Homo sapiens: one gene and its partners. The protein of the gene in region 1 purifies or fractionates together with the protein of each later gene. This does not show direct contact. Each region holds a gene or a part of one and is shown on either strand. Other genes may lie near its edges. The genes, in order: CMTR1, PHF6, HNRNPR, MAP1B, NT5C2, IARS1 and EXOC6B.

Region 1 (4,333 bases):
TTCCTGTTCTACCCTCATCCTTCAGTAAGCCCCACATAACTGCACTGTGGGGTAGGGGTGTGGGTTTCTTTCTCAACTCTCCAGCTCCTTCACCAAATATAGATGGCCACTGCTCCCGTTTAACCTCTCTGTCCTGATGTCAGTTACCTGTCTTTTTTGGTAATCCTGAGATCAAATAATTTTTTTTTCTTCTAGCCACTGTAGTCTGCAGATCAAAGCTCTGGCGAAAATCCATGCCTTTGTTCAAGACACGTGAGTGTTGCCCACTTTTCAGAAACCACCTATTTCAAGGGAAGATCTTGCTTTTCCTCCCCACAAGCTGTTTGTTTTTTTCATTTCAACAAACATTTTAAAACACCTGCTTTTTTCTCATACTCTGCTATGGTCTCTGAAGGATGCCAGAGAAGCATATGACATGAGCTTTGTCCCCAAATACTTTACATTGTCTTTGGGCAGATAAGAGTAACCCAGGAAAAGGATACAGGAAAGGTTATTAACAGTGCATCAGAGGGTGTAGAGTGGCATGGCACAAGTAGAATACATAATGTTCAGGGGACACAGAGTAAAGAGTGATCAAGAGAGGAGAGGTAGGACTGATCAGAGAAACCTCGGGTAGGGGGTGAACATAAGCTAATTCAGCTTTGTGGGGCATGGTGACATCCAGTGGGATGGGTTTAGTGTGGCCTGTGTCAGCAGAAGAGGAGCTAGAACATGCTGATGGGTGATTGAAAAGGGTGTCGGGGAGGACCCTGGCATCCAGGTCGTCTGGAGGGCACTTTCTCCTTTCCCATTGTGGTGAGAAGGGCAGGTAATCCCATTTCGTGTATGTTTGAGCTCCTGTCTTCAAAAGGAGAGCCTTGCATGTGTTGTAATCACGCTGGGCCAGTGGCAGCATAGTGTCTGTGTGTACACTCACATGTTCATTCATTCAGGCCTCCTCTCTATGGGATATGAGGGGTGCACAGGGGGCACTCCTGTGCCTCTTAGAGATTTTAATCACTAACTGGCTTCATATTCCCAGGACACTGAGTGAGCCTCGACAGGCAGAGATACGGAAGGAGTGCCTCCGACTCTGGGGGGTGAGTATCTCCCCCGCCCATTGCTGCTTCAGGGCAGGGAAGCCATAGAGAAGAATGGGGTTGACTCCCAATCCTGTCACCTTAGGGTGTCTCTGCATCCAAAAATATCTGCTACCCTCACAGCATCCCAGAGGTTGACATCTCGGCATTGTTGGTAGTTACGTCCTTGGCCCTTTCACTGCTGGTTTGGCCCTGCAGCTGGGTCAGAAAGGACTAAGGGGTGGGGTGTGGGGAGGTGGGCCGGTGTCAGTTTTGCAACTGGTGGCCCCTTGTAGCAGCACTGACAACAGAGAGCCCCAGAGAAAAGGAAGTAGCCTTTGGGGTCCATTGCCACAGGATCTGAAAGGGAGCAGTGAGTGAATTATCCACCTCCATCCCTGTCAGCCTAGCCTCCTTTGTTGTGTGCCATTCCTCCTCCCCAGTCTGACCCTATCTCCTCCACCTGCATATACTCATACACGGTCTTGGTCAAAAGGGCATTTGAAAGTCAAAGCTCTTTGCTGTCTTATTTCAGATCCCAGACCAGGCTCGTGTGGCTCCTTCTTCCTCCGACCCTAAATCGAAGTTCTTTGAGCTAATCCAGGTAAGACTGGTATCTGTGGTGGACATAAAAAGTTAGAGATCTGTCTCTAGATGTGGATGGTATCACTGAGGCCCCAGATGCATGGTCTCCAGAGGGCTTGTGCAGATGCCCACCATGGGCTCTAAGGGGCGGAGCTAAGGCTGCCACAGGTGGGAACCTTTGGTATAGGGTGTTGAATTCCCCAAGAGCACAGTCAGGCCAACGGAAGATTCTCATGTTCAGTGCTTGGGCTCAGCATTCCTGCCACCCAAAGGGTGGTTCTGGCTGTGTCACCCTGGCAAGTTCAGGGTCCTGTGGGATTTGCCTACAAAGGAGACATAGAGTGTGGGATGATCTTAGGCAAGGGAGCTGGGCACAGGGTGAAGGGAGCTGCCAGGGAAGCCCGCAGCAGGGTTGGCCTAACCCCAGGTTCTTTGTCTTATTTCTGGTGAGCTGGTCCTCAGAGTTCTTTTGCCCTGTTTCTTCTACCACTCAACCTCCAGCTTTTACTTGGGCCTCATTTAAATCTGTCCCAGATCATGGGCAATTGTGCTGGTTTTGTGGGGGTCAGGGAGTAGAGACTGAGGTTCAAGATGCCCTCAAAAGAATAGTATGTGTACATTTTTCTAAATGGGGTAAAGAGATCACTAAACTGTTCTCAAACCAACTGCTGGAGAATCCTTGCTTTGAGTTTTATTGAAGGGGCAGCTTTTATATTCTGGTGACATTTTCTTATAGGTCTGGTAAATTGATCTGTACTTGGGGACTCAGTGTTCTTTCCTTTTCCAGCCTCTCCTAATAGGTCCTACAGGAACATTCCAAGCAGATGGAAATAGATCCCATTTAGTGCACAGTTAGGTAGAGAAGGGGGTGCAGGGGAGCATATTTCAGAGAGCCAATGCTTCCTGTCCCTTGCCTTGTCGAGCCTGCCCCCAGCCCAGATAGGCACCCATACTGTCCCTTCCCCCAACCCGGCAGTGTTTTCTCTGACTCGTGGCTGCAGGGCACTGAGATTGACATCTTCAGCTACAAGCCCACACTGCTCACCTCTAAAACCCTGGAGAAGATCCGCCCTGTGTTTGACTACCGCTGCATGGTATCTGGCAGTGAGCAGAAGTTCCTCATCGGCCTGGGGGTAAGTCTGCAGCTGGCTTCCTGCCCAGCTTGGAATGGTGGATTTGCCCTTTGCGGAATCTGGACAGCTGCCTGCCACACTTGGTACATGTTCTCTTGGCATTAAGTAGCTGTTGCTTTGACCCTAGTGAAGGTATTTCTTGAAACTTCGTTTCCTTTCTTCCTCTGAGTTTGCCAAGTGTCATTCATTCATTCTTTCATTTGTTTCTTCAATTCTGTGCATTGCTAAAGGGAACACTGCTACTTTTCTTGTGATACAGAGCTTCCCAGGCTAGCAGAGTGGTCAGCAGGCTTATCTGGCTTGAGCCCAGGCAGCCATTCCTTTGCAACACCACCACCACCCCATGCCATCCCATCCCCTGTCTTGCAAAGATACTCCCTGTCCCTACCCTGGGCCCCCTGGAGTCTAAAGTGAGGTGAGGGAAAGCCTTGGCAAGCTCTTTATCTTACTTAACTGGGTAAAGTCATTGCTTTTTCTTTCAACTCTTGACTTGTGTTTCTATATAATTTGATCCTGTCTTCCTCAGTTACTTCTTTTGTACCCTCTCACACTTTGTCTTTTTCTCATTTTACTTACTCTCTCCTTCTCTGCTCTCTGGACTCTTCACTAAACCCACCTTAGACATATACGAAACTGGATCTTTTTTGAGGGCCACTAATTATGGACTTAGGTCTTTTGAGTGGTGCCCTGCACCCGTTCCAAGGCTGAGCCAGATCTCTGCTTCTCTTCTGCTGAGGCACTGGAGAACACTACTATCATTATCACTAAAGTATAATGGATTTAATCTCTCATAGACATTTTCTTCTGACATTTCCCAGTCCCATCAGTTTGTAGCTGCCAACTAAAAGCTCTTTTGAGAAGTAAGCCTCTTATCCCTCGATCTCCATGCCTTCCTTACCTGGCTGTTTCTCTCTGCCTGTAGAAATCCCAGATCTACACATGGGATGGCCGCCAGTCAGACCGCTGGATCAAGCTAGACCTGAAGACAGAGCTGCCCCGGGACACTCTGCTATCTGTGGAAATTGTGCATGAGCTGAAAGGGGAGGTCAGAGATGGTTCTGCTCAGGTGTTGGCCCTGCAGCTAGGGGACTAGGGGGCTGCTGAACCTGGCCTTTTGCCCTGAGTTAACTTGGTTACATTGTGTGGTGGCTGACAGGGCCCAGGGCTGGGGTAAGGGTTTATAATGACTCCTCCCCGAGCAGTTGCTCTAAGCCACAGTGGTTCAGGTAAGGAGGAGCGCAGTCTCCGTGCGTCAGAGGAGACCTCGATTGTCTCTGTGCATTGAGGGCCCTGGTGAGTCTACTGGGTATTTTTTAGCAGCTGATTTAGTTTTTGACCAGAGATCCCTTGGGAAACAAGAGACTTGTTTCTCAGGAGCCATGAGTATGAAATCTATATGGTGACATTCAGAACAGTCAGTAGGAGCAACTGGCAAGGGGGGTAAGCCAGATCCTGGCTGGAGTGCCATGGCAGCAGCCTCACTGGGTTTGAGGTTCAAGGGGCCTTATCACCCAATGCCTTGGATCTTACCCTGCTCAGAAGCCGAGGCCAGTCTGA
Region 2 (4,333 bases), on another chromosome or scaffold:
ATTTATAATCAGCCATATAATGGAGTAAAATGATAAGAGCCAAAATGAACAGTATATATCTTGAGTCCCATAGGAGTTTAGAGAAAAAGGATTATTTTAGAGGTTGGAATATAGCATGGTAGACTAAGATAATTTTCCCTTTTTGTATTCATAGGTAAGCAAGCAAATGTAAACATTGTATTTTGGCTTTATTATGGATAATTTTTGCTATTTTGTTAGTACCTTGCCAGAAATTTGACTGCTTGTATGTGAATGCTGCATAAAATAGGTCCTGGGAATTCTAATTTAGCAAAATTCCAACTCCTAACCTTGTAAAGAAGTTTCCACTCCGAAAATATTTTTTATTGGTATGTCTTCCTCTTTCTTGTCTTTCTTGAGTGAAACTGACTATAAAAATAAAGTAAGCTTTAAAAAAATTATCTGTCCTGAGTTGCTGTAGTTAACTGGTTATTTGCAAAATGCATGTATTTCACCATAGCAGCTTAAAACCAGTTACTTTGGGCAGATTTAAATTTATAACCAGCCAAAAACTATTTTGGTATATTTTGGGTTTTTGGTTCCCATCTTATTCTCACCAGACTGAGAGACGGGTATTGAAAGCATTTACTAGAGTTTTCCTAATTTGTTTTTTAAATAATATTTTTGCATATAAAAGTACTTTTGCCCATTGTAGAAAAATCAAAATACAGGGCATTATGAAGAAAACCAGCCACCCAGAGATAGCCACTTAGCATTTTGCTGTTTTTACTTGCACCTGTTTTAAAGAATCTATGTTATAAACATAGTTGGGTTCATAATTCACATAGTTTTGTATCCTGCCTCATTTTTTTTAACTTAACATTACACATAGATCTTCCTGAGCCATTCCAATTTCTTTGAAAAGAGTGGCTGTAGAACATTCTCTCATATGTGTATACTATAATTTATTTAAACATTTTTCTTTTTCTTTTTTTCTTTTTTTTTTCTTTTTTTTTTTTTTGTGATGGAGTTTCACTCTTTTTGCCCAGGCTGGAGTGCAATGGTACAATCTCAGCTCACCGCAACCTTTACCTCCCAGGTTCAAGTGATTCTCCTGCCTCAGCCTCCCGAGTAGCTGGGATTACAGGCATGTGCCACCACACCTGGCTAGTTTTGTATTTTTAGTTGAGATGGTGTTTCTCCATGTTGGTCAGGCTGGTCTTGAACTCCTGACCTCAGGTGATGCGCCCGTCTCAGCCTCCCAAAGTGCTGGGATTACAGGCGTGAGCTGCTGTACCCGGACCTAAATATTTTTCAATTGTTGATAGGTGGTTTTACATTTTAGACTGTTCTAAATAATTCTACAATGAATGTGCTTGTGCATTAATTGCTTGAGTGTGATTATTTTTTAGACTAGGTTTATAGAGTAAAATTACTGGCTTAGAGAATACAAATTTTTTAAAAACCTTGTTGAATAAGGCAAATTGCATTCTAGAGAGTATGTACCAATTTCCAGCTGTATACAACAGTGCCCATCTTAACTGTATCTTGTCAATGTTGAGCTCAATATAGTATTTTAAATGGCACCTCTCTTTTCAGTTTTGCTCGCTAATTGAATTTAATATATTTTTTTCAAAATGTACCCATCTAAACCTGTTTTGGATGTAAGTTTCAAGATAAACTACTTTCCCTAAAGTTCTTAGTGAAGTGGGATAATGTTTGATGCGTTAAAAAAATAGATTGCAAAATAGTATGTGTAGAATTACGTTTCACTAAGCATTGTAACACTGTGAGGCATCTCTGCTTGGTGAGTATGAGTGATTTAAAATTTTTCTTTGTGCTTTTTTGTTTTCCAGAATTTCTTTAATATAATAGAACTTTGTAATTAAGCTACAGTTCAAATGCTGTACCTCCTTAAGAATTTATAAGCCATCCAAAAGCTTTGCCTTCTTGATAATTTGGCATAGTATTTCTTTTTACAGTAATACTTTGAAGTTTCTGTATTTATTTAAGGAAGAAAGGGGTATTTCTTGTATCAATAATGGGCACTGGCCCTCATGTTTTCTGGGAAACAGCTGTAGTGAGACTGTTTCTGTTTCTGACATATGAATATTTTTTAAATGATAGCCTGAATGAGAGTTTTAGTGTTTGACTTGCTTAGAGAAATGTAAGAAATTTTATTGGAATTTATATTAGCCTCTTGGTACACCAATATTGCTTAGAGGCCGAGTAATCCAAAAGTTAGGAATGCTAAGTGTTCTTTATGTTCAAATTAATAAAAAGAGGGATGAGAACACTTTAGAACAAGGTGTCCAGCAACCAAGAAGCAAATGAACAGTTTTTTAGATTTAGCTTGTTGTGAATCTATTTTGGCATGTCATGTACAGTTAAATGGCCTCATTATAAAAGTTCACTTGGTACAGTACATTATGATATGTTAATCAAAACCACTGAAAGTCATTGTTATGTAACTTTTTAAAGATAACTTTTTTCCTAAATGTAGAGCATGAGCTAGTTAATCAATATGAATTATCCATTAAATTCAAAAGGTAAGGTATAATAAAATACATTGAAAGAATCTGTTCTTTTATCTGTTTGCCTGAATTCATAGTGCAAGAGGTAAGTGACATAGATTAAATTGAAATACTGTGCATATTTTCATAATATAATCAACTTGACATCACAAAATAGTCTCAGAGCTCAAGGTATTAAAAAAACTACCTAATTCTTTCACCTTGTCTCCTTCCCTCGCTTTAAATGGATTTTACTAGGTTCTCAAATAGTAAGTTATGTGAGATATTTTTCCCACAGAGTCTCATTAATTAAGTGGATTTTTTTTTTTTTTTTTAGACGGAGTCTCGCTCTGTTGCCCAGGCTGGAGTGCAGTGGCACGATCTTGGCTCACTGCAGCCCCCACCTCCTGGGTTCAAGCAGTTATGCTTCAGCCTCCCAAGTAGCTGGGATTAGAGGCATGCGCCACCACACCCCAGCTAATTTTTTTGTATTTTTAGTAGAGATGGGGTTTCACCATATTGGCCAGGCTGGTCTCAAACTCCTGACCTTGTGATCTGCCTGCCTCTGCCTCCCAAAGTGCTGGGATTACAGGCATGAGCCACCGCACTTAGCAATTAAGTGGAAATTTTAAGGAAAACTTTTTTTTTCTGGTATGAGACATTTTCTCCAGTTACTTGTACCTAGGAAGATCTGGATTACATAAAAAGTCTCTTTTATAATGTTATATACAGCTCACATTCCTGAATTACAGTATTTCAAATTTTCTCTTGACCATAATGAAACAATAGACATTAATAACATTCTGTTAATTTTGTCAGTGTTTAACATGGGAAAAAATACCCCAGAAGAATTTTATTCCGGTTATTCTAAGGAGAGAAAACAAGAAAAGTAGCATTAATTACAAAACTTTTCAATAACCAATTTGTTTTCCTTGACAGAAATTGATATGCCTCTAATCTGATATACAGCCTTAGAAAGTCACATACTAATAATATTATTTTGTCGTTTTGCTGTAGATGTGTTCTTTGTGCCATTGTCCTGGAGCAACAATTGGTTGTGATGTGAAAACATGTCACAGGACATACCACTACCACTGTGCATTGCATGATAAAGCTCAAATACGAGAGAAACCTTCACAAGGAATTTACATGTAATTATTTAACTTCTCTTTAAGTTTTTTTTTTAACAATAATACTTTCTTTGGGCTTTTGTAAAAATTTTTCCCATTTCAAAGCATTTCATCATCATCATAAAGGGTGTTTTTGATAAGAAATTTAATACTTAGAGAAATAGTACAGGAAGTTTAATAATATATTTTGAATCCAGCTAGTGAATTGGGTGAAGTGTACTGCTCGTTTTCTTAATTTGAAAAGTGAGTTTAATTTAGTTTGCTTACTAATTTTTGATTTCTTCATTTTTTATAGGGTCTATTGCCGAAAACACAAGAAAACTGCACATAACTCCGAAGGTACATCATTTAGCCACGTTTCAGCCACTTTTCAGTTTCAAGAAGAAATTTGAGTACAGATTAGTGAATTATACTATATTAATTTTAACCATAAGACATATCTCAACATTCAGTACATTTAGAAGAATTGAGAAAAGTGTTAGGATAAACTAATGTGCATAGTGAAAAAGATCTGAACTTCTTTTTTTTTTTTTTTCCTGAAACGAAGTCTTGCTCTGTCGCCCAGGCTGGAGTACAGTGGTGTGATCACAGCTTACTGCAACCTCTACCTTTCAGGTTCGAGCAATTTTCCTGCCTCAGCCTCCTGAGTAGCTGGGATTACAGACGTGCACTGCAATGCCCAGCTAATTTTTGTATTTTTAATAGAGATGGGGTTTCACTGTGTTGGCCAGG
Region 3 (4,781 bases), on another chromosome or scaffold:
GAAGCATTAGATCTTTAAGGAACTTCATGTACACCGGGTAAGATAAAGGCTTTAATTTACTGAAGGTAGAATTGCTGATTAACAAAAGCAGCTGTTCTGTCCTGGTGAAAAGATCAAAATCACTACAAAATCCTTTACTAAAAAGCCCCTCAGCTCTCGGGTCTTACACAGTTTTAAAAAGTTTTGTTTTAAAAACAGAATGAACACCCACAGACCACTTAATCAAGATTTAAGGACTTTCAAATTTTCCTGGCTCTGCTTCAAATACAGTATCGGTGTGAAATAAGTGCCCTGTTTTCTCTAGTTCAACATGCTGGTGGTTTGGGTTTTCTCCACCTAACAATACAAAACGAAAACAAAAAAAAACCAACTTGACATTAATTTTTGTTCTAAGATTAATTCGCTATTCCCACAGATTTAAAAGAAAAAATGACCAAGTTTAAAAGCGAAACAATTGTTTTCAGTCCAAATAAAATACTAAGTGAGCTATAGTTTAGGTTGCTTCTTAAAAAAAAAGAGTACATGTTGAAATTTTCATATCAGTAAAATAAAGATGTAAAAACATACTGAAGAATGGACAACTTCTTCCAAATATTTCAAAAACCGTTACCTAATTAGGCTAAACTTCAGCCAGATTTCTCAGATTAACCTATCAAAAATAATTTTGTACATTCAGCCTGTAGGTAATGCTGAAATGGACTGACTCCCTGAAGAGAGAGAGTAAACAATAAACCATACAAGGCCAGTCTGTGTACTGCCTCAAAAGACAGGGAATTAAAGTGCATTTGTCTGTGGTGAAATTACAATGTGATGAAGATAATAGGCAGCAGAACAAGACATTGCAACACATACTAAATAAAAGACATAAAGGTGGATCTCAAGAAAAAGCCTACTTTTCTTGATGAAACTCAAGATACCTAGTCATCTATAAAGAAAATACAAGTCTCCTACAAAGTACTAAGACACATAAGATAACCACACTTCCCGACAGCTTATCGAACATTGTGCAAATGCACCAGGTGCAGTTTTCTGGCTTAAAACAACTTCTTTTCATTTCAAAGTCCACTGATACTTAGTTGAAGTTAACGAAAGAGGGAGGAAGACCAAGAGGGGAAGGAGGTAATAGAGAGTAGGAAGAAGAAGAAAATGCAAAGGATTACTCTGAAAATGAGATAAACATGACTCCTCACAATTACAAAACACTATTAAGACTCGATAGCCCTTAATAGACGCAGACTGTGGTTAAATTCTGGGTGGATGTTTCTCAAGACAAGCTTCAAATTCTGATGAACTAGCAAAAACGGAAACATTCGAAATGTCACACTTTTGATCAAGAAACTGTATTGTGTGAGATGAATACGTTTACTGATTAACACGACCTATTTCTATAAAGATGCATCCTAAAACACAAAATCTCCTTGCGAACATAAGGTTCTGTTTTCCCATGCTCCCCCATCCCCACATACTACCTTAAGATCATCAGAACTCAAAAGTTCTCAGTATCACAAGACCCTTACAGCATTGTACCTAGGAATACTATCAGTCACAGAAAAGAGGCAAATTTTTAACAGAAAAGTTCAATGAACATCTGTTAAGGTGGGGTTTTTAAGTATGTGTAAAGCAAAAAGACAAGTTGTGTATTAAGTACAAGACAGAAATATTTATGCCTACCATTTCATTGCAAAGGCTCTACAAGTTGATACTGAAATTGGTTAAAATTTTCAAAAAAAGTTTGTAAATTTTAACAAAAAAACCGTAAAATAATTAGATTCCAGAAAATAAAACCTTCGGATCAAGGAAAGCCCTCTCTCTTCAAGCCAAATACAAAATGCTCATTTTGAAAAGACTTTTTATGTCATATGAGACCATTTGAAACTCATTCAAATGTGGCATTCAACACAATGCCACACAGCCAAACCATATTTCTGGATGCAGCAAATATACTAACGTGACTGGAGTCATTTGATCTAAACATTTTTGCAAAAAAAAAGGAGACATTTAAAGATTTAAAAGGGCTGCTGGGAGATTCGGGATGTCAGCACTAACTCCTCCCTGACTTTTTCTGAACCTCTCTGTGCAAATTCTTCATATTAAGAGACGGGCTTTAAAAGAACCAACGAAATGAGACTAACGGTTATCTCATGGCTTAGGAGTGTCGAGCTCTCATCCTACGACTGACTCATGAGACATCAATTCAGCCACTTGAGGACTGCAAAAATCTCAAACAGGTAGTGTGAAAGGACTGAACCTTCCAAGAAGCCCTGGGCTTTTTTAAAAATTTGGCAATACGGCCACTACCGTGTAAGAAAAAGGATCGCCTTTCCAATTTGGTGCGCCTCTGACAGTCTCAGAATTATCCATTTCAGGCGCCGCTTGGAGCCTAAGTTCTACGGCCTCTAGTAGTCATTTTTTCCTTCAAATCTCAGCCCGCGGCATGCAGAATGTGGGAGGGGAGGGAGGCTTCCCACACAAATCGGCCTTTCGGTTTCTGCTCACACAAAACTTTTCTCCCGGCTCAGATAACCCTGGGATCTGCACCCCGCCTTCCGCCCCCCACCCCCATCCCCTCAGGCCCGTCCGGATCATCAGCACATCCCTCTCGGGCTAGGCCGGCCGCGGCGGGAGCGAAGCGGCTCCGGCGGGGAGAAGCGGCAGGGCCGCGGGCGCCTCAGGCCCTTCGCGGGATCCGGCCGCATGGAGCAGCGAGCGGAGGCGGGAAAAGCACGGCCGGCCCCAGCAGGCCGCGCGGAGAGCGCCCAGCGGGCCGGACCGCGGGCTAAAGGGGCGGGGGGAGGAAGAGCGAGGGCGAGAAGCGTTTCGGCCGGGCTAGGCCCACAGCCGCGCGGGCGGACTAGACCGAAGCCGCCCCCAGCCCGTCCCCACCCCCACCCCGGGGCCTCGGAGCGCAAACGAAACGGGACCAGGCACGGAGCCCGGGCTGAGTCGGGTCGCATCGGGGCTCCCGGCCCCTCCCCCCACGGGCCGGCGCGAGACTCACCAGGGCAGAGCGGGGGCCGGCAGCCGGGCCCGTGAGAATCAGCGCGAGGCGCTTTGAAAACGACTAGAAATGGCGCGCGCGCCACCCCCTCCCCCCCCTGATGGACTGAGACGCGATCCCGGCAGCACGCGGGGTTTCCCGGAACTGCTTCCAGGGACTCCGAGCTACGGGGCAATCGCTTGGCGAGGCGGCCTGACAGGCAGCTCAGACGACCAGTAGTATCCAGGCAAAACGGACCACGCCGGACGACTCGAGAGCCAATCGATGAAGCTGCCGGCTGAACCAATGAGGGTGCTCAGCGCCCCTGGCTGGGGCGCCTCCGGGGCGGGGGCAGGCACACAAAGGGGTCTGTGGTGGAAGCCCTTGGTGGCTGCAAGGCTTGGGGGCGCTGGGTCCTGGGTGGACGAAGCTCCTCCCTCTTCGTCTGCCGCCGATGCGAGGCCGAAAATCTAGGCCTCGCGCCGCGTGGCCGCCTCCGGAGCCCCGCCCCCTATGGTCAGCACTGGCCCAGCTCCGCCATGGCGCTTGCGTCCCGCCACCGGCCGCCCTTAGCCCCCGAGTCCTCCCTCGCACCCCCGCGGCCGGCGTTCCCCCCAGACACGCCCATAGCCACGCGTTCGGGCCTCTTTCGGTCATCTTTTCGCCTCTAGTGAGCACACGATTTAAGGATGATTTGGCTCGTCATTTTGCTGAGGATTTTGTCTAGATAATCATTCCTTGGAACGATCGGAGAAATGCCTCTTTCCCTCCCTGGCTGCCGTCCACACATCGTTGGTGGCAGACTGTGAGGGAAATCGTTAAAATGACTCAAAAGCAATGTGTAACACAAGTGATAGAGCAGGGAGCTTTTCCCCACAGGGTTTGGAGCTACTTGATATTCATAAAATAAAGCAGCTATATACATCTCTGAAGCCAAAAGAGCCATGCAGGGGAAAGGGGTAATTCCCAAAGGACACTATAATTCGTGTTAGTCCTAAACCTATTTCTCACCTGCCATTCCTACTGATTTGTTCCCTGTCCTTAGTCCAAACCTGTCTCGTCTCATAGAAACCTTCCGAACTCACTTCTGTGGTGCAAGCGCTTTTTTCCCAACCCCAAACTCCAATGCCCCACCCTTAGGAAGTGGAGGAAGTCAAGCAGTGGTCTGCAGATTTCCAGATGCACTCAAGGATGATTAAATTTCTCAGAACCTACAAACCTATATTTAATTATTGAAAACGGGCGGGGCGTGGTAGCTCATGCCTGTAATCCCAGCACTTTGGGAGGCCGAGGCGGGTGTATCGGTCAGAAGTTCGAGACCAGCCTGATCAACATGGTGAAACCCTGCCTCTACTAAAAATACAAAAATTAGCCCGGTGTGGTGGCACGTGCCTGTAAACCCACCTACTCCGGAGGCTGAGGCAGAAAAATCGCTTGAACCCGGGAGGCGGAGGTTGCAGTGAGCCAATATCGCACCACTGCACTCCACCCTAGGGAACAACAGCGAAACTCCGTCTTAAAAAAAAAAAAAAAGAAAAAGAAATATTGAAAACGACTACTATGTGCCCAGTACCAAGTTAAATCTCTGGGTAGATCCAAGTTTTGTGTTATGGGGTGTGAGATTTACAGAAATGCTGGGAGTCTTAGGCCGGGCGCGGTGGCTCACGCCTGTAATTCCAGCACTTAGGGAGGCCGAAGTGGACGATCACTTGAGCACAGGAGTTCGAGACCAGCCTGGCCAACATAGTGAAACCCCGTCTCTACTAAAAATACACAAATTAGCCGAGCGTGGTGGCGCGTGCAT
Region 4 (3,500 bases), on another chromosome or scaffold:
CTCTCATTTCCCTTCTTCTTCCAGTGGTCTAATACCTTGCTATTCAATTTTTTTCATATGGTTTCTGTTTCTGCCCTTAAATAGCTATTTTTTTTTTCTCTCCCTGCAGGTGACACTGATCCCAACTCATGACTCAGAAGTGATGAGGGAATGGTACCAGGAGACCCATGAGAAACAGCAAGATCTCAACATCATGGTTTTAGCAAGCAGCAGCACAGTGGTTATGCAAGATGAATCCTTCCCTGCATGCAAGATTGAACTGTAAAAACCAAGGCCAGCCACACCACAGGATCTGAACTTTGTTTCCAGAAATTCTTCAATTTGAAATCACCTTTTCTAAAAAGTCAATTCATCTAGTTAAGTCGCTGAACAATTACCTGCCAAATGCTATACTGTGTCATGGTGATGCAAGTCACTAAATTTCTCAGTTTTTGCTGATTGCTAAGGGAAATAACAGTATTTCCACAATAGGGTTCAAATTCCTGCAAAATTACCTACCCCAGTTCATCTCTGCTGAACATTTGGAAACCATGCACTAGCCAACCCAACTGACTTCTGCTAGGTAGAGGCATTTGTCTTAGAGAGAGAGAGAGCGCGGGAGAGAGTGAGAGAGAGTGAGAGCACAAAGATAACGCAGGAGAGAGAGAGAGAAAGAATGAGAAAGAAAAGGAATGCAAGAGAAGGAGATGTAATGACAGAGAGTTCTGGTGAGATACCCAGAGAGAAAAAGAGAGAGCAGGGTGGGGTAAGGAGGAGAAAATAAACCAACAATTAGGTCTGCATTTTCTCAGGCAGTAGGCATTCTTTAGTCTACATAGGCAAAGTTTTCCATTTTTGTCAGTCTGAGTCATCAAAAAGAGTCTTAATTTTCTAAAACAAGTTGGCTAGAAGAAAGTAAAAAGAACAACACTTGTTATGAGGGCATGTGATATTTTCACATCTTAATTAAGCTCCTTCAGTTTGAAGGCTGCACACTGACATAATGTAGTGAGTGTAGACTGGCCATGCAAGTGGTTTGGGCCCCATTCAGAACTCTCAGACTCTAAACACACAAGTAGATTGATCTAAGGCATGCTCCCAGCATTTGTCCACCCACTTAGTCCACTCTGAGTCGATTAACCTGCATGCAGCAACACCCAAGTCCACCCCAATTAACTGAAGCAAATACCAAAGCAGTTGGGAGTACATATGGTAGACAATTTGCCTTAGGAAGTGACTTGAATGTACAAAGATACTTGATGCACTTATTTTTTAATGTGAGACAGCAAGTTTATAAAACATCCATATAGGATTATAGATACTTAAAGGAACACGTGGGTGAGCGTGTGTGGGGGTACTAGAAGCTGATCTGATTGGTCCAACAGTTTGATGCTGAGTCATGCGTGTTGAATCCCACTTCAGTGCACCTGTGGCCTCTCAGTCAAACAAGTTGTGCCTTTCACAGCTTCTTTACTACTGCAAGTTCAAGACTGAAATGGCTTCTATGATCAGAACTGGGAAAACAGTGAATCTTATGGTGGAAGAGGTTCTCAGCAAGTGTACAGTATTTACCTTCCTTTGTCTTACATTGGCTTTTTAAATTTTCCATTAATTTCAACATAATTATGGGAACAAGTGTACAGAAGAATTTTTTTTTTAAGATATGTGAGAACTTTTCATAGATGAACTTTTTAACAAATGTTTTCATTTACAGGAAATTGCAAAGAAAATTCTCAAGTGATAGTCTTTTTTTTTAAGTGTTTCGTAAGACAAAAATTGAATAATGTTTTTTGAAGTTCTGGCAAGATTGAAGTCTGATATTGCAGTAATGATATTTATTAAAAACCCATAACTACCAGGAATAATGATACCTCCCACCCCTTGATTCCCATAACATAAAAGTGCTACTTGAGAGTGGGGGAGAATGGCATGGTAGGCTACTTTTCAGGGCCTTGACAAGTACATCACCCAGTGGTATCCTACATACTTCTTTCAAGATCTTCAACCATGAGGTAAAAGAGCCAAGTTCAAAGAACCCTAGCACAAATTTGCTTTGGGATTTTCTTTTCTGGAAAAAAAAAATAAAAGAAATAGTACATTGAAAACAAATGAATTCTCAACTCCTACGGTTCATGTAGAGTTTAGAGAAAATTTCCATCATTGTCATCATTGAACTGTGAACCTGGGAAGCCAGATCATGATTAACACTGACATCAAGTTTCAAGTTGCAGATCAATGCACCCAGTGTTCAGATGAGGCAAACTTCTCCGTGACAACTGTGCTGTGCTCTGTCACATTACATTTCCTGCAGACTCTAAGATCTACGGAGTAGAGAACAATGACCTCATTTTATTTTCTATGTTAGTTATTTATTTCAAAATTAACATTTTAGTTGATTTTTGTCTGATAAGTCTATGTTTTGCACTGCTAACTATGATGAGGGTTTAAAAAAATGCTTCTTCAGGGTCCTTTCACTGAGGACCTATGCAGTCTACTTAATGCTGTGAATTACATTTTTCAAATGTTTAATTTTTTAAAGAAAATTAATATTCTATTTTTGTTAGGCTTCTCTAGAAATGCAGCTTTTATTTATTACCCCATTTCTTTCAAGTCCTTGGAAAATAACATATTAAGGGTACAAGAAATTAACACATGATGGAAAAGTCATTGTGACGCCAATGAATTTCATTGAGTATAAACTCATCTACTTCAAATTTATTTTATAACACAACCTAAGATACTCAAGATAATTATTTAATGGTTAGCTCTTAAGTTGAATTGGTCTACATAATGCGTGGGAAGAAAACCAGATTTTTAGCCTTCTTGCCAAATCCAGACCTCTGGTTGATTTTTCTTTGACAGAAGATGCAAGTTATTTTCCAATTTCACAATTAAATGTATTTAACCTGAACATTATTTTGCTTTAAAAACTATAAACATTGTAGGAGAATTATAGCCAGTCTTCAGTTATAACCACTCCACCCTCCTCACTTTCTCTCTCTCTCTCTCTTTTTTTTTTTTTTTTTTTTTGCTATGGGATTTAATGGGAAAAATATGTAAAAACTGTCACTAGTCAGCTGGCTCTTTTTCCTATGAAATCTATCAGTACCTTTCTCCATCCGTTGTTCTCAATATGACCACAGAGCCTGAGTATACCAAGAAAACCAATATTCGCATTACAGGTTGCTCCTGTCCTTCCAGACACCTTTCCTGCCTGTGTGACTAACCTAATTTTGCTAGTTCCATAAATACACGATTAGTTTAGTAACAGCCATCACAATGTACCATGTACATTCATGGTGAGAGCTAAAGATCGACACAGACTTCTAGGAGCTTTGTTCATACTGATTACTTAATCCAATTGTATAGATTGAATATTTGAGTGGAAGGAATTTACACTCTGTTTAAATGATGGGATTCTATCGAGATAGCACTCATGATCATGACCTTTTTGGTAGTATTCTTAAACAAAATTCTACAGAGACTAAATGTTAGCGATGATCCTCCATTTTCAATTTTAA
Region 5 (4,923 bases), on another chromosome or scaffold:
GCCTCCCGAGTAGCTGGGACTACAGGTGCGTGCCACCATGCCCAGCTAATTTTTGTATTTTTAGTAGAGATGGGGTTTCGCCATGTTGGTCAGGCTGGTCTTGAACTCCTGACCTCAAATGATCCACCTGCCTTGGCTTCCCAAAGTGATGGGATTACAGGTGTGAGCTACCACGCCCCGCCACCCTGGCCTTTTTTCAAATGCACTTGGTTTAAAGATTGTGTTATGCCAGCTTCCAACCCCTATTCCTCTTTTCCATATATCCTGAGAAATTTAGAAGGTGAGGGGCCCAAGGTCTATCCTTAGCTGACCTGAAGCGAAGTTGGCTGAGAAGCACAAGAAGGGGTAGAAGTGCTCTGGCGGAGCACTTATTAAAAAGACGCGGAGGTTTTGGTTGACTGCAAGCCCAATATGAGTCAACAGTATGGGTGCCAAGAACTTTATCGCAGGAGTGCAAAGCGATAGGTCCCAAAAGGAGGAAGCTATAGTCCTGCTTTGCTCTGATGATACCACAAACATTTGGTTCAGTCTTGGGTGATGTATTCTAAAGAAATCACAGTCAAATCTACCATTTGCGTGAGAGGGATAAAGACCCTCAAAACCAGGGCAGAGGAGGAACAATGGAAGGAACGGGAGACACTGATGTGGAATGAGAAGACCTTGGGCAGAGGTGATAGAAGTAAAGTATCTGAAAAGTCAAAGGTCCAGGAGAGATTAGACGTTTGTTCTCTGTGGCTCCAAGGCATCGAATTTCGGCCCTGAGAGTGGAAGTTTAGACACATTTTCTCACTGGTGAGAGCTGCTCGGACCAAGGAATTCAGTCCTCTGGAAATAGCTAGCTGCTTTTGCGGAGTCTTCCTGCTGAGTTGCTGGTGGTGGGGTGAACATTTATTGAGTGCTTACTGTGTGCCAGGATCCTGCTGAGGGCCTCACCTATATTGTGTGATTTCATCCCGTCAACACCCTTTGATGTGGGGACTGTTGTTCCCTATCCTGGTGCTACAAATGTGGGCACCAGGTATAGGAGGTCAGGTACCTCGCCCGAGGTTACAGTTTGTAAGTGGTGGTACTGGGACTGGAACTCGTTCTGACAAACTTCAAAGCTGGTGTTTTTAGCCATCAAGGGGATTCGAGGGTGCCATGGGGGTGTGGACGCATGAGGGGCCTTGAGGTCCATTAGACCAAAACATTCTGTGACTGGGAAAAAGGATGCCCTCTCCTCCCAAGGAAAAGCTTCTTCTGAATGAGACACAGTGGAGAGGTTAGCCCAGGGCCAGGCTGAGGGGCGCAGGCAGAATGCCAAGGGATGGAGACCCTCAGAAGGGCAAAGCCGGTGTTCCATCGTTTGAAGATCTCCAGACCCGCGGGACAGACAGACGCAGCGCGGTCAGGGAGCGTCGGCTTCGCCGAACTCTGCGGCGGAGCTGGGGGACGGAACAGCGCGCCGGTCCCTGGCCGGGCGCGAGCAGAGGGGCGGCGCGGGGCGGTGCCGGGCGGCGGGGGCGGGGAGGGCGCGCGTTGAGGCGGCTGCGGCAGTTGCGCGCTGGGATTGTTGCGGTGCGCTGGAGCCGGTGAGTGCGGCGGGCCCCGTGGGCGGGCGGGGAAGGAGCGGGCGAACGGGGAGCTAGGTGGGGAGGTGCGCGGCCGAACACGCGACCCCAGGGTAGCGGCCGCCGCCTGCCCCCGCCCCCGGCCCCCAGGGACCATGGCCCCAAGGCCCCTCTCCTTAGGCCGAGTCCCCGCCAGCGCGCTCGCGGACGCCGCACGCCTCCCAACTCCCTCGGTGCGGCCCCCGCCCCACGGCAGCCCCTTCCTCCGCGCCGCCGCGACGCCTCCGGCCCACGTCACGCTCGCGCCATTGTTTCCCAGCCGCCGGCTCGCTGGGACCCCGCCTCAGCCTCCCAGCGCGGCCGTTCGCCGCGTTCCGCCCTCTTCCCCCCTTTCCTCACGCTGGTGGTAGCCCTTTCCTCAGTCCTGCTGACGTCCTCCAGCTGATTCCAGGCTGTTCCCGGCCACCCCTGAGGCCGTCTTTTCGCTTCTTGTAAAAGCCTCCCCGCCCCCAGAGCTCCTCGGTCGCCTCCCGAGAAGCCAAGGGGCCTCTGGTGGAGCGCCAGGTTGACAGCGTTTTAGCAGGACCGCGAGAAACGGCCAGCTCGTTTGCCACACGCCCGTGTGCAACACTTCCTGGAAAGGTCACAGCGAATTGCAAGCCGCCACAAAAAACATCCGGACAGCTCCTGGTCAGGGGGCTGAGCCGTTCAGTGGCGGCCTATTCTTCTCCTTTTTTCGGGGCTCCTGAAATCGGAGAGGGCGAGATGCCGATCTGAGGCCTGAACCCTTAGTTTAAGAAAAACGTTTTGGGGGTTTGACTCCGGCAGGCCACAGCTTCTAAAAGCAGCAGGTAGAGGCTGCTGTCCGAATCGACGTTTTCCTGGGCTTTCACCTTTAGGGCCTTGATGTTTGAGGGGGGTCGTGCTCTGAAGTACAGCGCCCCGAAATGACTAGTCACCATTACAGGGGGGTGTGTGCGCGCCCGTCCAGGGGCCGATGAGTTCTTCAGGATTGAGCTGTACTTGGTTCCCAGTGTCTGTAGACTATTCATTTCGCCTCTTCAAGCAACGAATGCAAACTACTGACCATAATGTGAAAGGGAGAATATTGAAACTGTGTCATTTACCATGAAAACTTAGTGTTATTGCGTAGAGAAGGCTTTAGGTTTCAAAAATATTTACCACATGGCTTTTCAACAACGGTTAGAATTTATCCAGATGAAGACATCCAGGCCTGAAAGGGTGAAGTTCGAAAAGAGAAAAAAAATAGGTGTGAGCTGAGAGTGGAAAAAAAAAAAAGAACAAAAAAGGTTAAGTTCAAGAAAACATAGCTGGTTAGTAATTAAAATAAAAACTCCACATGCAGGGTTGATACTAGCATACACAGACTTATTTCTGAAGTGCATTTCCATTGCAGTGTAAACCACTACATTTCAACAGTATAGGTAGCTGCATTACTCTCATTGACCCAGAATTAAGGTTTTAGGATTTAGTAACCAACAAATCTGTAAAATAAGGTGGAGGGGCGCGGGGTGGAGTGGGGGGGGTTCTGAAGGAGATGTTATGCAAGATTCCTTTCAGTTCAAAGGTTTGATGCCATTGTATGAAAATTTACCATCAGCTACAAGTTTTCAGAAGTTTGTAATTGTAAGAAGATTTATATAGATAGTATTCCCTTATAGTACCTGCCACCCTTAACCAGAAGACATCACATCTTCCTAAAGAAAGCCAGATTACAATAGAATGTTAGGCACAGAGGTGCTCATTAATCTTTCTCTAGGCTATTTCTCCTGTTTTATGGGGAAAGAGGAGTACATAAAACACAGGTTTTTTTTTTTAAGTATTTCCTCTCTCTCTCTTTTTTTTTTTTTTTTGAGACGGAGCTTTGCTCTTGTTGGCCAGGCTGGAGTGCAATGGCATGATCTTGGCTCATTGCAACCTCCACCTCCCGGGTTCAAGCAGTTCTCCTGCCTCGGCCTCCCGAGTAGCTGGGATTACAGGCATGCGCCACCACGCCTGGCTAATTTTGTAGAGACGGGGTTTCTCCAAGTTGGTCAGGCTGGTCTCGAACTCCTGACCTCAGGTGATCTGCCCGCCTCGGCCTCCCAAGTACTGGGATTACAGGCTTGAGCCACTGCGTCCGACCCTGTTGCTTAATTCTCTTACCAAAAGCTTAATTCAGTGAAATAGTAAATAACAACAAATCCCCAAAAACAAAAACCCACAACTTTGTCATGTTATGACTGTGCTCTTTTAAAGTACTTACATAGACTGGTTTTTATCTAGTACACTTGCTGTGTACATATTATTTGGGATTTTGCTCTTACCAATATTTCTGGGATGTCCATGTATTTAGAGAATTCATCTAATCTTCATTAGTAGATGCTCTCTAATGTGCCCCGGTAGTCAACAATGCCTGGCACACAGGCTCTTAGTAAATTTTTGTTGAATAAGTGTTGTAATGTTTTGAGGTTTTTAGACATTTAACACAAAATACTAACTATCACAAGGCATATGTTGAGTGACGTGAGCAGTAAAGGCAGTCATACTTTCAGCCAGGAGACATTGCATTTATTTAAGGGCCCGGATTTTGTAGTCTGGCTTGCTACTTAACATCATGCAACCTCGGGGAACTCAGTTAACCTTAGACAAGCTCACTCAGTTTCTCTCACCTTGAGAAGGGAAAAATAGAACAAATTTTACAGAGTTATGTGGATTAAATAGAATAATTCAGTTGAAGTGATACTGGCACACATTAAGTTCTCTATAAATGTTAGTTTTTTTTGCTCAGAGTGAAGGAATATTAATGTAGCTTGGTGGGATCAGGAAAAACAGTAACACTTCAGAGTAGGGAGAAGATGCTGAAGTGGATGTATTGAGGGTATGATTAATAGATTGTTCTCACTAAAAGGGTTTGGTAGAGCAGTAGTCTGAGATAAAACTGGAAAGAGAAATTCTGGTAAGCAGTTTACAAGTATGCTACATGGATTCTTTGCAATTAGAGCGGAGTGAATGACCACCTGAGGTCAGGAGTTTGAGACCAGCCTGGCCAACATGGTGAAACCCCATCTCTACTAAAAATACAAAAATTAATCAGGCGTGGTAGCGCATGCCTGTAATCCCAGCTACTTGGGAGGCTGAGGCAGGAGAATCGCTTGAACCCAGGAGGCGGAGGTTGCAGTGAGCTGAGATTGCGCCACGCACTCCAGCCTGGGTGACAAGAGTGAAACTCTGTCTCAAAAAAAAAAAAAAAAAAAAAGAAAGCCACAAAATTAATGCGGCAAACCGGCCAGGTGCGGTGGCTCACGCCTGTAATCCCAGCACTTTGGGAGGTCGAGGCAGGTGGATCACCTGAGGTCAGGAGTTCGAGACC
Region 6 (4,333 bases), on another chromosome or scaffold:
TTCATCCATCTTTCCCAGCTGCTAACATCTTCGGTAACCATAATATTAATAGAATTTTCAAAAGCAGTTGCCCCATTAATTTTTATTTCTGACCAATCACATATTGCATTTGGTTGTCATGTCTTTTTAGTCTTCTTAAGTATGGAACATTTATTTAGTCCTTTGTATTTCATGGCCTTCTCACTTTTGAAGATTGCAGAACAGCTATTTTCTATAATGTCTCTCAATGTGTGAGGTTTCCTGATTTAATTTAGGTTATGCATTTTTGGTGACAATGCCACAGAAGTGATGCTATGCCCTTCTCAATGCATTATATCAGGTGGCATGTGTTGCGGCTATGTCACATTGATGGTGATAACTTTGTTCACTTGGTTAAAGTGCTGTCAGCTTTCTGCTTTGTAAAGTTGTAGTTTTTCCTTTGTAATTAATAAGTATCTTGTGGGGAGATTCTTTCCAAATATTCTTTTTTTTGTCATACATTCACTTATTAATTTTAACATCCATGGATGGTTTTTGCCAGTAATAATTATGCCTGTGATATTTGCCAAGTGGTGGTTTTGGTAGACTTTTATAAGTGAATATTTATACTTGTAAATAACATTTTGTGCATGTAGGATGAATGCCGAGAAAACTGGTTCTTAACCTTACATAATATGTTGTTGGCAGTATAGATTTACTTGTACCATTGATTATTCTGTTTTCCCAAAATTTTCATTTGTGATGACAACAGAAATAAACACACATTGATGTACAATTATAAATATCATTGTCTAATACTGTTCTAATATTAATATTTTAAAGTCTACTGTTAGCAGACTTGGCCGATGGATTGACTTTGACAATGACTATAAAACTCTGTATCCACAATTCATGGAATCAGTCTGGTAGGTTTATTTAAAATTGTAAATATGGTAAATATTCTATTCTGTTGTATTGATAATTGGAAAAATGCACTAGCATGAATCAGTTTATTTTTGAGTCCATCGTTATTTCTCTGAAAATCTTTGGGAACAGGTTTGTTTTTGAATGTAGAACTTTTATTTTTATTTTTTTGAGACTGAGTCTCGCTCAGTTGCCCAGGCTGGAGGGCAGTGGCACAGTCTTGGCCCACTGCAACCTCCGCCTCTCAGGTTCAAGCGATTCTCTTGCTTCAGCCTCCCAAGTAGCTGGGATTACAGGCGCCCGCCACCATGCTTGGCTAATTTTTGTCTTTTTAGTAGAGATGGGGTTTCACCTTGTTGGCCAGGGTGGTCTCGAACTTCTGACCTAGGTGATCCATCCACCTTGATCTCTCAAAGTGCTACGATTACAGACGTGAGCCACTGCGCCCAGCCTGCCAGTTGCTTTTCTTAACATTATGTGTTAAATATCATTCGATATCAGTAGATATTAGCATTTTAATGTCTGCCTGATGTCTTACTATATTGATCTGTTATAATTTACCAGCCAGTCTCCCAATGAAAGACATTGTTTTTTCACTTATTTGGCAGACAGAAACTCTAAAAAGAAAATGGCATAAATGTTTGCATTTTCAGAAATAGAATTTTGTTCTGTAATTGTGAAACTCCATCTCTTACCAGGTGGGTCTTCAAACAACTCTATGATAAAGGCCTTGTTTATAGAGGTGTGAAAGTCATGCCCTTCTCTACGGCATGTAACACTCCACTTTCCAACTTCGAGTCACACCAGAATTATAAGGTACGTGAAATGTAGAGACATTATTCAGCATTGAGTTTTGTAGGTGGAAGCTGAGTAGTTATGATCACAGTAGGTATTCCCAAGTAGACCCAGTGTGGAATGTTGCCCACGACATCCACCACTTTGACCACTTCTTACTGAGTGCTGGAAATATTGCCAGTTAGTATACTAAGGCTCTGTTAAGATGAGGGATTTTTTTTCCACATTGGATTTATGATGTGTCTTAATGTGATAGGTTTTGCTTGTTTTGACCATATTTTTGTGCCTCTCTGTTGGGTTAACAAGTCCAGCTTTGACATACTTCCTGTAGTCATCGTTTCTTAAGGGTTGAGTAATTTTATGCCTTATCTGGGACCTCATGATATCATTTATTTGTTAACGGTATTTGGAAAAAAATTAATTTGAGATGCCAAATGGTATTATTTTTCCTCTGATGAGATAGAATCAGTTGTTGTTGTTGCTATGATTGAGGTGTTTAGACATGTTTGATGTTTACAGAGTGTATTGTTATACCATATCTAGACAGATATTATATACTAGTAAGTCTTCTGAAATGTGAACCATCTCTTCTCGTGTGTATACTGAGTTGTTTTCAGTTTTGAGAGTTTATCTGACCCTCTGTTTTTAAAGGATGTTGACTTGTTTGGAATTCTTGTTTCATGGCCTAGGTTTGAAAATTACATTAGTAAAATTTGCCTTTCAAAGCACGTTTTATTTATAGAATGCTTTCACATATCCTGTTTGATTGATCTTTGTAAATCCTTGTAAGGCAGGTATGATGATTTCTATTATCTCCTTACCACCTCTCTGTGCTCATGTTTGTATTTTTTTAGTAAAATATTTTAAGCACTTAACAATGTAGAGAATGATATGGTAAACACAAGGTTTCCAAGGCTTACCTTTGTCAAATCTTAATATATTGCTATATTTGGTTTTTGTTTGTTTGTTTGTTTGAGTCAGAGTCTTGCTCTGTCGCCCAGGCTAGAGTGCAGTGGCGCGATCTTGGCTCCCTGCAACCTCCACCTACCCGATTCAAGCAGTTCTTTGCCTCAGCCTCTGGAGTAGCTGGGTTTACAGGTGCCCACCACCACGCATTTTTAGTAGAGACAGGGTTTCACCATTTTGGCCAGGCTGGTCTTGAACTCCTGACCTTGCGATCCACCCACCTTGGCCTCCCAAAGTGTTGGAATTACAGTTGTGAGCCATTGCGCCCGGCCTGTTTGGTTGTTTTTTAAAACACTTGAATGTGGACAGTTTCAGGGACATGCAAAAGTAAACAGAATGGTATAATTAATTTCTGTAGGCCCATTAAGGCCCCCAGCACCAATGACTGGCTAATCTTGCCTCATTCATACACATATTCTTTCCCACTTTCCTTCCAATTCTGAAACAAATTCCAGATATCATATTATTTCATCAAGAAATAATCCAGTATAGATCTTTCATAAATAATCTTTATCTTCTTTAAACATTGCCATGTTAGCATTCGTTGTCACACCTTAAAAAGTCATCAGCAGTTACCTTTTTGTTGTTGTTGTTGTTTTTGAGATAGGATCTCGCTATGTCACCCAGGCTAGAGTGCAGTGGCACGATCTCGGCTAACCACAGCCTTGACCTCCCGGGCTCAAGTGATCTCCCCTTTCAGCCCCCTGAGTAGCTGGGACTACAGGAACATACCACCATACCTGGCTAATTTATGTGTTTCTATAGGAGTGGTTTCACCATGTTGCCTGGGCTGGTCTTGAACTCTTGGGCTCAAGCAGTCCACCCGCCTTGGCCTCCCAAAGTGCTGGGATTACAGGTGTCAGCCACTGCACCTAGCCACCTTTAATAGTTTTTATTTTAATATTCTCAAATTATGTAATTCCTGAACATCATCAGTTCATATTTCTAATGGTTTAATCATTTCCCAAGGGGTTATATTTTATTTTTATTTATTTATTTTTTTAAATCAGGATCTACCAAGACTTAAACACATGGTGACTGTTGTCTTTTAGGTCTTGTACACGTTTCAGTTGGTTATATAACAAGTAGTGGAATTATCGAGTCAGAGTATACTTTGTTTTAATTTTTATTTTTTTGAGACGGAGTCTCACTCTGATGCCCAGGCTGAAGTACAGTGGTGTGATCTTGGCTCATTGCACCCTCCTCCCAGGTTCAAGCAATTCTCCTGCCTCAGCCTCCCGAGTAGCTGGGATTACGGGTGCCCGCCAGCATGCCCAGCTAAGTTTTGTATTTTTAGTAGAGACAGGGTTTCGCCATGTTGGCCAGGCTGGTCTTGAACTCCTTACCTCAGTTGATCCACCTGCCTCAGCCTCCCAAAGTGCGGGTATTTTTACAGGCGTGAGCCACCACGCCCAGGTGAGTCACAGAGTATACTTAATTTTTAGTTCTAATACTGAGGTTGGGAAACTTTCCTCTGCAAATTAAATATTTTAGGCTTTTCAGGCAAAGTGTTCTCAATTTTGTCACCATTCTTAACTCACCCACTGTATGAAACAAGTGATGAGCCAGATTTGGCCCAGGGGCCATGGTTTGCTGACCTCTATTCTACGCGGTCTGTATATTGATTGTTAACCAAGGGTTTTTAAAATTTTTTTGACTTGACCAAGCACAGTGGCTCACACCTGAAATC
Region 7 (4,333 bases), on another chromosome or scaffold:
AGAGAGGGAGAGACCCTGTTTCAAAAAAAAAAAAAAGAAAAAAGAAAATATCCCCCTTATAGAAAAATAAGCAAAAGACATACACAAAAGCCCTTAAACATATTATTGTGAGATTTTCAGCCTCACTCACAATAAGAAAAATAAAAATAAAAACTACACTGAAACACTACTTATCACATCATATTGACAAAAGCCCAAAAGTCTTTGGGTTGTTGAAAAAGCTACGGAGAACTTTATTGAAAGAGCTACAAAGAAATGAGCAATCTCATAGACTGCTAGAGGGAGAACAAAATGGTACAACCTCTAAAGTGGGTAATACCTACCAAATTCCAGATATATTCATCATTTTACTTAGCAATCTTACTTGTGGGAATCTATCCTATAGATACAGTACGAAATGTACAATAGGCCTAGCGCAGTGGCTCAGGCATGTAATCCCAGTACTTTGGGAGGCCAAGGCGGTCGGATCATTTGAGGTCAGGAGCTCAAAACCAGCCTGGCCAATATGGTGAAATCCCTTCTCTACTAAAACTACAAAAATCAGCCGGGCGTGGTGATGGGCACCTGTAATCCCAGCTACTCGCCAGGGTGAGGCAGGAGAATCGCTTGAGCCCGGGAGGCGGAGGTTGCAGTAAGCAGAGATTGCGCCACTGCATTCCACTCTGGGAGACAGAGCAAGACTCCGTCTCAAAAACAAAACAAATAAAAAAAGAAATGTGCAATAAAAAATGACCAATATTCAAGGCTATCCCTTCCTGCATTATTTTTTCTGGCAAAAGGCTGGAAATAATCCAAATATCCAGAAACAGAACTAGTTTAATAAACCATGATATATTTACATAATGGAATACTATGTAGCTATTTAAAAAAAATAAGGAAAACCTCTATATACTGATATGGACAAATCTCAAAAATATATGTATAACTAAAAAACTAAGCTGCAGAAGTCTATACAATAACACTATTTATTTTGTAAAAAGGAGAAAATAAGATAATATATGCTCCTATTTGCATAAGAAAGCAATGGAAGAATAAACAACAAACGAATAAAATGGGGAAATAGAAGGAATGAGACAAAAAATGTTTGTTAGATCTATGATTCATATCCTTTTCTTTCCACTTTTTAAATAAAATATTTCAAACCCACACAAGATAATTTACCTATATCATTTTTTATTTTCAAAATTACAGTAGATAAGATTTCCAGGAGCTCAGGTTCCTCAGAATTACATATTTGATCTGATGATAACTAACAAACTCTTGAAATTTAATACAGGAATACTTAGCAAATGCTACACTCCCATTTAATTTCTCTCTATGGCTACTAATTTTTCTGTGGTGTGAATCTAATCAATCAGATAACAAATCAGCATAACCTCCACTGGAAGAGCTTCAATGAAAATTGTTGTCTATTTAACTCAAACAAAATCAAACACAGAGCCCATTGCTAGCTAACTGAACCAAATCAACATTGTCTTATTAGCCACAGATTCTTCATAATTTTTTCATTTTTCCAGTTTGCTTGATAACTCAATGAGGACATTTTTTAAAAACAAGTTTCTCTTTATCAAACCACAAAAAAATTTATTCTCCTATTCCATATTGTAATGAAACTTATTTAACATTATCCACCCCTTTTTACCCAAATGTACAATTTCAACTTTTTGCTAAATGTTAAGCTTTATTTATATAACATGCACTCAGATCATAATGCTTTCATCATTAGAGTTACTATTCTTAAACCTGCAAACTTTTGACAGCACTACAAAGAACACTGAGGAATGACAGGCTTTTTAAAAATTATTTTAGATTACACTTCTGACTGATGAAGAGAAAGAAGAACTATAAAGTTATATGTAGTTATAAAAAACATTTCTGATATGTAGAGGCTTTTGAAATTTTCATTAGTTTTATTTTCTCTCAAAAAGAAGTCATATTTTTAAGACAGTTAATCTGCAAATCAGTTAATTAATTCCCAGATAATTAACAGTTGGTGATACAATTTTTTAATTCTTCTATTCGTTCAACAAATATTTACTGAGCACCAACTATATGCCAGGCACCCTTTGGGTTCCCAGGATACAGCAGCAAACAAAAGAAACAAAATCCCTTCCCCCCTTGAACAGACATTCCAACAGGGTAGACAATCAAAAATAAAATGTCAGGCTGTAATAAGTTATTCAAAGAAAAGTAAAGTTCCTCCCTTTATTGTTCCCTATCCCAATAATTGGCATCACCATCATCTGATTGCTTAGGCCAAGAGCCTTGGAATCATCCTTGATCCTCTCTTTAATTCCCATAACTAATCCATCGTTTTGGCACTACCTTCAAAACATATTCTAAATCCAGCTACTTCTCATCACCTCCTCCCTATTACCATATTGCATGCCATAACCATCTCTTGCCTCTTATTACTGCAAACATCCCCTAACTGGTTTCCCTGTTTCCTCTCTTACTCTGTCTCCACACAGCAGCCAGAACATTCCTTGTTTGTTTGTTGTTGTTGTTGTCATTGTTTTTGAGACAGAGTCTCGCTCTGTCGCCCAGGCTGGAGTTCAGTGGTGCGATCTCCACTCACTGCAACCTCTACCTCCTGGGTTCAAGTGATTCTCCTGCCTTAGCCTCCTGAGTAGCTGGGATTACAGGTGCCCACCACCACGCCAGGCTAATTTTTGTTTTGTTTTCTTTTCTTTTGAGACGAGTCTCGCACTGTCTCCCAGGCTCGAGGGCAGTAGCGCGATCTCGGCTCACTGCAAGCTCCGCCTCCCAGGTTCACGCCATTCTCCTGCCTCAGCCTCCCAAGTAGCTGGGACTACAGGTGCCTGCCACCAGGCCCAGCTAATTTTTTTTTTTTTTTTTTTTTTTGTATTTTTAGTAGAAACGGGGTTTCACCATGTTAGCCAGGATGGTCTCGATCTCCTGACCTCGTGATCCGCCCGCCTCGGCCTCCCAAAGTTCTGGAATTACAGGCGTGAGCCACCGTGCCAGGCCATTTTTGTATTTTTAGTAGAGACACGGTTTCACCATGTTGGCCAGGCTGGTCTTGAACTCCTGGCCTCAAGTGATCTGCCCTCCTTGGCCTCCCAAAGTGCAGAGATTGCAAGCATGAGCCACTGTACCTGGCCACATTCCTTGTTTAATCTAAGTGACCACATGTCACTTTCCTGCTCAAAACTCTCCTGTACTTTCCCATAATGCTCAGAATAAAAACTCTCCTGTACCTTTCCATAACATTTAGAATAAAATCAAAGTCTCTTTCTTAGTCTACATGATCTGGACCCTGACTACTTTCTTACCACCACTTCCCACCGTTATCCTTTTCCTGAGGGCCTTGGCACTTACTGTCCCCTTTGTATGGAAGGTATTTCCCTCACAGAGAGCCATATGGCTTGTTGCTTCACTCTATTCAAACCTTTGCCAAAGCTACCTTTCCTAATCCCCTAATTGAAAGCAATAACCCAGTCATTATGTAACATTAATCGCTAAATAGCACTACATTATATATTTATTCATTTATTCTGTAAGTGCCCACTCCGGACTCTATAAGCTCAATAAGGATAGGGACTTGTCTATATTGCTGCCTGCTGTACCCCAGAGCCTGGAAGAGTATCTGGCACATAGACATTGCTCAATATTGAATGAATATATGAATGAATCAATTCATTAATAAAGCCACTAAAGTGACATCATTATAATGTATAAACCTGTATATAACATGTTAACTGAAAAAGCAAGACACATAATAATCATCTAATATTTAATATAATAACATGCATATAAAAAAGTTAAGAGGAAATATAAAAATATAAAAGTGGTGGAAAGGTAATAGAATTAAGTTATTTGTTGTTGTTTCTTCTTAAGTCATTCTATTACATTTATAATTAAAATATAAAAATGTCATTTTTAAAAGGGCACTACTATTAAAAAATAAGCATGAGCAATGGGAATGTTCTTCCCCTCAGTGATTGTCAAGGACGGAGTATATCACAATCACCTGAAGGGCTTTTATATATTTATTTCCTATCTCCTCCTCCTTTCTCTGCTCCACCCCAAAATAACCCCTCCCAGGATTGATTATTGATAAGTATTATATCCCTTAGATATGTGGGACCAGGAAAAGGAAACAAAAAAAATAGGCTAACCACTAAACTAACAAAACTCAAAAAATAGAAATACTTAAGTCCACATAGCAAACCCAAGGGTAAAGGTGGAAGATGACTCACACTTGAGTGACCAATGCCTAGCAGGTACCATGGCACCCCATCTACATTGGAGGAAGAGTATGAAAAGAAAAAAGAGAGAGAGAGAGAGAAAGCATCATTCATGCTACCTG

The links.
Region 2: the proteins of CMTR1 (region 1) and PHF6 purify together in Homo sapiens (affinity purification with mass spectrometry, with the first as the bait; one large-scale study listed by BioGRID). This does not show direct contact.
Region 3: the proteins of CMTR1 (region 1) and HNRNPR purify together in Homo sapiens (affinity purification with mass spectrometry, with the first as the bait; one large-scale study listed by BioGRID). This does not show direct contact.
Region 4: the proteins of CMTR1 (region 1) and MAP1B purify together in Homo sapiens (affinity purification with mass spectrometry, with the first as the bait; one large-scale study listed by BioGRID). This does not show direct contact.
Region 5: the proteins of CMTR1 (region 1) and NT5C2 purify together in Homo sapiens (affinity purification with mass spectrometry, with the first as the bait; one large-scale study listed by BioGRID). This does not show direct contact.
Region 6: the proteins of CMTR1 (region 1) and IARS1 fractionate together in Homo sapiens (co-fractionation; one large-scale study listed by BioGRID). This does not show direct contact.
Region 7: the proteins of CMTR1 (region 1) and EXOC6B fractionate together in Homo sapiens (co-fractionation; one large-scale study listed by BioGRID). This does not show direct contact.

What each region holds. Positions count from the first base shown.
Region 1 is NC_000006.12:37,470,826-37,475,158, forward strand, and holds part of CMTR1 (cap-specific mRNA (nucleoside-2'-O-)-methyltransferase 1), read left to right. Parts: intron 1-195; coding exon 196-252; intron 253-1,021; coding exon 1,022-1,079; intron 1,080-1,593; coding exon 1,594-1,662; intron 1,663-2,644; coding exon 2,645-2,776; intron 2,777-3,698; coding exon 3,699-3,821; intron 3,822-4,333. UniProt on the Homo sapiens protein: S-adenosyl-L-methionine-dependent methyltransferase that mediates mRNA cap1 2'-O-ribose methylation to the 5'-cap structure of mRNAs.
Region 2 is NC_000023.11:134,390,013-134,394,345, forward strand, and holds part of PHF6 (PHD finger protein 6), read left to right. Parts: intron 1-3,488; coding exon 3,489-3,622; intron 3,623-3,896; coding exon 3,897-3,940; intron 3,941-4,333.
Region 3 is NC_000001.11:23,341,213-23,345,993, forward strand, and holds the start of HNRNPR (heterogeneous nuclear ribonucleoprotein R), read right to left. Parts: upstream 3,073-4,781; 5' UTR 2,999-3,072; exon of another isoform or gene 2,362-2,998; coding exon of another isoform or gene 2,299-2,361; intron 1-2,298. UniProt on the Homo sapiens protein: Component of ribonucleosomes, which are complexes of at least 20 other different heterogeneous nuclear ribonucleoproteins (hnRNP). hnRNP play an important role in processing of precursor mRNA in the nucleus.
Region 4 is NC_000005.10:72,204,975-72,208,474, forward strand, and holds part of MAP1B (microtubule-associated protein 1B), read left to right. Parts: intron 1-109; coding exon 110-265; 3' UTR 266-3,500. UniProt on the Homo sapiens protein: Facilitates tyrosination of alpha-tubulin in neuronal microtubules. Phosphorylated MAP1B is required for proper microtubule dynamics and plays a role in the cytoskeletal changes that accompany neuronal differentiation and neurite extension.
Region 5 is NC_000010.11:103,189,884-103,194,806, reverse strand, and holds the start of NT5C2 (cytosolic purine 5'-nucleotidase), read left to right. Parts: upstream 1-1,534; 5' UTR 1,535-1,571; exon of another isoform or gene 1,572-2,401; intron 2,402-4,923. UniProt on the Homo sapiens protein: Broad specificity cytosolic 5'-nucleotidase that catalyzes the dephosphorylation of 6-hydroxypurine nucleoside 5'-monophosphates.
Region 6 is NC_000009.12:92,283,087-92,287,419, reverse strand, and holds part of IARS1 (isoleucine--tRNA ligase, cytoplasmic), read left to right. Parts: intron 1-801; coding exon 802-884; intron 885-1,580; coding exon 1,581-1,698; intron 1,699-4,333. UniProt on the Homo sapiens protein: Catalyzes the specific attachment of an amino acid to its cognate tRNA in a 2 step reaction: the amino acid (AA) is first activated by ATP to form AA-AMP and then transferred to the acceptor end of the tRNA.
Region 7 is NC_000002.12:72,815,470-72,819,802, forward strand, and holds part of EXOC6B (exocyst complex component 6B), read right to left. Parts: intron 1-4,333. UniProt on the Homo sapiens protein: Component of the exocyst complex involved in the docking of exocytic vesicles with fusion sites on the plasma membrane.